Regions from separate parts of the Homo sapiens genome. Here region 1 is linked to region 2. Evidence: fine-mapped expression QTL. Tissue or cell type: whole blood. Region 2 holds a variant in brackets; the other region holds the start of a gene. All regions are shown on one strand. Distances are from middle to middle.

Evidence for each region. PIP is the estimated chance that this variant, and not a neighbour inherited with it, causes the effect.
Region 1: ELF4 starts here. The variant in region 2 is fine-mapped to the expression of ELF4 in whole blood (TOPMed, PIP above 0.99).

What each region holds. Positions count from the first base shown.
Region 1 is chrX:130,109,378-130,112,055 of GRCh38, forward strand. ELF4 (E74 like ETS transcription factor 4) reads right to left here and starts at 1,120. Exons shown (of 9, transcript NM_001421.4): 1 at 948-1,120. It also overlaps a transcript of RAB33A not described here. RefSeq lists silencers at 1,002-1,071, 1,152-1,301, 1,552-1,601, 1,612-1,661, 1,732-1,851.
Region 2 is chrX:130,065,965-130,068,642 of GRCh38, forward strand. ELF4 (E74 like ETS transcription factor 4) reads right to left here. Exons shown (of 9, transcript NM_001421.4): 9 at 1-1,561. The coding sequence ends at 757. Among named protein-coding and RNA genes, the nearest start is that of ELF4, 43 kb to the right of the region's middle. The variant C/T (reference allele first, on the strand shown) is at 1,240.

The DNA of each region.
Region 1 (2,678 bases), 43 kb after region 2:
ATAATTAGCCACAATGAACTGTCAAACATTAACCAGAAGAGGCTGCAGGACCAGACAGGCCTCTATCACAGGCCGAGGGATGAGGGGCAGGAATCAAATGGCCATCAAATCCCTCAGCTGGGGTATGGTGCGGGGCGGGGGCGGCCCAGGAGGACCTCGCTGAGCCGAGGTGCCAAGGGGTCAGGAGGTGACTCTGGTCAGGAAGGTGATGTGCAGGCATACGGTGGTGAGAAAAGGGAGTCAGGGTTAGGGTGCGGTGGAGGAGCCAGGAATTCATAAAGCGGTCACCGCCTCAGCAGTCCCTCAAGCCTCCAAAGCAAGGCGCTGGCGTGAGGGGACCCCGCACGGTGCGGCTGCTGAATCCCCTAGGCGGCGGCCCAGGAGGGAACCCGGAGGCGGGAGAGTCGGGGAGAGCGGGAACGCGGGAGCGGGAAGGCTGGCGGCTGGCTCACACGGAAACTCCGGCCCCTGCCAAGAGGTCTCTATTTTGGCGATCCAGTTCTCCACATCATAGGTCTGCGTGCGCGTGTGTGCGTGTGACCCTAAAGCCCTGGCCCCAGAAGCCCCGGGGGCAGTCGGATCCATCTAGCAGCTCCGCCGCGGTCCGCCCCACCTCCTCTGCCCTCGGGCGCCCAGCTTCTGGGGGCCCGCTGTCATGATCGGCCCCGTCACGGAACCCAGGCTGCCGGGGGCGAGGGAAAACAGGGGCCCCTACCCCGACTCCCCGACTCGGGGAATCCATTCCACTTCCATCCCGGGATCGGGAGCCCGGGTTCTCCATCACACGCGCGGCGGGGCGACTCCAGGGCGGCTCGCGACACTCCGCGACTCTCCCGCCCTTCCCTGGGCCCCCAGCCCCACGCCGGGGCCCCGGCGCTCTCGATTCCGCCCTCAAGCAAACTTTTCCACGTCCCCCAAGGCTCGAAGAACCGGCGCCATCGACGTACCTGAGGCCGAGTGGCTCACGGGCCCAGCTCGGTCGCCGGGCCGGGGTCTGTCTCCGTGGTCCCCGCTCCGGGGGCCGAGACGCGGGTCCCCAGCCCCGCCAGCCCGTCCTCTCCCCTCGGAAGCCGGGCCGGGCGAGCGGCGCCAGGAACTCGGCGCCGGCGAAAGGAGAAGTGGAAGTTGAGCGCGGCGCCCGGTCGGTCCCCGCGGCCGCCGGGGCCGCCGTCCCCCGCCCTCCTCCCCGCCCGCCCTTCTTCCCCGCCCGCCTGCCCCCGCCACCCCGCGCCCGTGACTCACCTCGGCGCCGGGGCAGGCTGGTCCGGGCGGGCGAGGCGCAGGGCTCTCCCACACTTCGCGCCGCCAATGGCAAGTTGGAGGGAGAGATGCAAATACCAGGTGAGACGGCGGCGCCCCTGATAAAACGGGGCGGGGGGCGGGGTGGAGCGCGCGGGGAGCGGGGCGGACGCCGGGGAGGGCCGGGCCAAGACACGGGGCGGCAGGGGCGCCCGGGGAGGGGGCGCGAACCGGCGCAGACATGCACCGAAACGAGCGAGCGAAAGGGGAAATGCAGTAGAGACACACACGTCCCCGCAGGCGGCGGATGGGGCGGGCGCGAAGGAGGCAGGGCGGGAGGGAGGGAAGAGCCGGAGGGAGGGACCGACGGGAGGGACTGCGGGCGGGCGGGGTGGGGGAGGGAACGAGGGAGGGACGAGGCATCTCGGTGGAAACAGCGCCCGTCCGCCCCGGCCCGCCCGCCGCGGTCGCCAGCACGGCATGGGGAGCCGTGCCAGGGGCCCGCGCGGCCTCTCATTCCCCTCGCGGCTCGCTCGCGCCCGGGGGACCACGAGGCAGGGCGCCCGCAGAGCCCGCGTCGTGCGCCGCGGCCCGGGCGGGCGCTCCCCACTCTGCTTCTAGCCAGCGAGACTCCGAGCTCTCTGCTCGTTCCGCGCCCTTCCCGGTGCGAAGCCCCCATACAACGCCCCGCAGAGAAATCCCTTCCCCGCGGACTCGGGAAGGTTTCGTCCAGCCCCCTCGGCCCGTGCAAGTGGAGACTTGCTTGACGCCTTTGGGCCAAGCCCTGCGCTCCACATTATTGAGCTCCTGGGGTGTGCAGGCCCCAGCGGGAGGGCGGGCCGTGCGGCGGGTGAGGCCGCGAGATGCCCAGAGGATACAATTTTGGAACCATATGCCCGACTCCGCAGAATCCTGGGCGTAACACCTGGGGTGACTGGAGAGTTTCGGCGACTTCTTAGGGAAGTCGAGTCTAGGACTCCTGCGGGAAGTTGGGGTGGGGGACGCTGGCAAGATATGAGTCAGGGGAAGGGCTAGGGGGAGAGGGGCTGGCCCAGCAAGTGCAAAGAGAGCCAGAGTTCGGGTGCTGGAAGAAAGCCCATGCCTACCTTTCTTCCCCTGTCCAAAGCCAGGCTGCTCTGCTCCACGCGCCCACTTGAAAGCCACTCAGGCACGCTCCCCTTCTATCTCCCCTTTGCCCTCTCTGACCTGCCTCAACATCAATACCGCCGCCTACGTGGGTCTGCTGATAGGAGGCTCTGGAGAGAGTGCGCTGGGAATTGTTACTCTGTATAGTTCCACGTGGCCTTTTTGGGGGTGGGGGCAGCAAGGCCTAAGCCTTGGCAGAAAGCATCAAGACTGAAGGAGCCCCAGGGGATGGGGCCTTCTAAAGGGCTTGAGGTTGAAGGACCTACTCAGCCTCCAGCATCGGCCTGCTTCTC
Region 2 (2,678 bases):
TCCCAGAGCTGACTTCCCTTCCCTCCCTTCGTGGTTTTACCCCACTCGGCCTTTGTGTCCCTGAGGAGCGCATCTTCCCCAATGTGCATGCGCATCAAAGCGTTCCTACTCTGCACTCGTTCCAGCTCTACAACATCTCCAGATTCGGAGGATCAAACTTGTACCCCATAGTCTCAGAGCAACTGAATCTCGGCATGAACAAAGGGAATTAGAGAATGCTTTCCCTTAAAAACAAAATCCCTATCCCTGTGGCTGATCCACGGAGACATACACACACCCTTGGAGACAAGACCTCACAGCTACAGCCCTGTCCTCCCCAAAGAAACTAAGATACAGACCAACAAGTACACACAAGTACATACAGGGATATTCACATATAGGGTAGTAAATTCCCTGTGTAGGGAATGCAGCCAGTGAGATAGAGCCAGGTAGAAGGGCTCTTCTCACAAAGCTGCTGCACAAACCCTGGCCACAAACTTCTGCCTGGCTCAAGGCTTTTTCCCTCCATCACCAAGTCAGCCCGTTATGCTGCCAAAAGCATATGCCCTAGTGCTCTTGAAGGCCATAGTCTGATGCCAGGGATGCTTAAGCTGGGCACTGTTTGGCCACAGTGACACCAGGCAGGGCCGGGGGACTTGGGGTCAAGTGTATTGACATCCCACTGAAATGCAGGGGCAGGTGTGCTACTGAAGTCGGTCCCTATGAAAATGCTGCTCAATTTTGCCTGGTGGGTCACACTTGCCCTGACCCCTTTGCTTATATGTCATGGGGCTCCATCTTAATGAGGGAAGTAGGGTTGAATGGGGAGAAAGGGGCTGGGGTGGGGGATCTTGTCAGAAGGCTCCCAGATGTGGTCACACTAGGCTCAGCCATCAGCAGGGACCCTGAGCCTGAGGAGAGCTCAAGTTCAGCCACTGGGGTCAGCCCAACAGTGGGGCGGCTGGGAGGAGACAAAGTCTGGTTGCCCAGAAGGCTCGGATTGTGGGAACCCCTGGAAACCACCTGGGTTGGAAGTGGCTGAAGATGAGCCTGATCTCTCAGGAGCTCCCTCAGGGTCTCTTCAGGAACCAGCAGCCCCTCCATGGGGGCCCCCGTCACCATACCCTGAACATAGGAGGAGGACCTCAGTGGCCCCTCCTTGACCCTAGGGGCTGCTGTAGTGCCAGAAGTCCTGATGAAGGCAGCAATGACAGTCCCAGGGGGCTGAGAGCTGGGCCCTGCTGGTCCAGCCCCTGTGAC[C/T]GTGGGTGGCGCCGGGTTGGTCGGACGGTTGGCCCCAGCCAGAAGTTGGGGGAGGCCACTGAGAATCAGTGGAGCCCCTGGGGCTGCCACCTGGCTGTCTTGGAAACTGGCGTTCAGGGGGAAAGAGGCCTGCAAAGTGAAGGTGTCCTTGAAAGTAGAGGCCGCTGGAACACTCTGGAGAACGAGCTGAGTGGGAGCAGTAGTACTGGCAGGAGGCCCATTGGTCAGCACCGTGGTCAGTGGGATCGTCTGCAGGGTCAGGGCCGAGCCCGACCCCACGGGGGCCACTCCTAGGTGGATGTTGCTGGGCACTGAAGATGCACTGAGAAGAAACAGAGAACAGAGTTGGTTAAGGCAGGAAGTGTCCCTCAGCTGGTTAGGAAGGAGGGCACGAGAGGAATGGAGCTGAAGGTGTTTGTCGATTTATTTGCTGTTTGTTGTTTTTTTCTTTTTCTAGAGACAGGGTCTCACTCTGCTGCCCGGGATGGAGTGCAGTGACACGATTACTGCTCACTGCAGCCTTGAAGCCCTGGGCTCAAGCGATCCTCCTGACTCAGCCTCCCAAGTAGCTGGGACTACAGGTGTGTGCCACCACACCCAGCTAATTTTTAATTTATTTTTTTTTTTGAGACGGAGTCTTGCTCTGTCACTCAGGCTGGAGTGCAGTAGTGCAATCTTGGCTTACTGCAACTTCTGCCTCTGAGGTTCAAGTGATTCTCCTGCCTCAGCCTCCCAAGTAGCTGGGATTATAGGCGAGCACCACTACACCCGGCTAATTTTGTATTTTTAGTAGAGACAGAGTTTCACCATGTTGGCCAGGCTGGTCTTGAACTCCTGACCTCAGGTGATCCACCTGCCTCGGCCTCCCAAAGTGCTGGGATTACAGGTGTGAGCCACCATGCTCAGCTGTAGCTCACATTTATTAAGTACTTAGAATAGGTATATAGGTCAGGGATCATTCTAAATGATTGACATGTGGCATTTCACTCAATCCTGAAAACAGCCCACAAGTGGGATAAGAACAATCTGATTTTACAGCTTGAGGAAAGTGAGGCACAGAGAGGTTATGTATTAATAACTTGCTCCAAGACCAGCCATACCTATGTTATCCTTTGATTTCTTCCAAGTGGGGATGCTGGGGTCTCACAAGGCCTTGATGTGAGTCCCCGCTCTAGTGATTACACAGCCAGTATACATAGTAAGCACTACAGCAGGGCCTCACAACTAGGTCTTGTGATCCCAGAGCTCATCTTCCTCACCATTCCACTCTACTGCCTGCCCTCCTCGAAAGGGTGTCTCACTGCGCCAGCGTAGTGACTGCCTGCCCTCCTCGAAAGGGTGTCTCACTGTGCCAGTGTAGTGGGAGGTCCAAACACATAACCCAACAAAGTCCAACCTTCTCAGGGAAAATCGGAGGCCCCTTAGTGGGGATGAGAAGT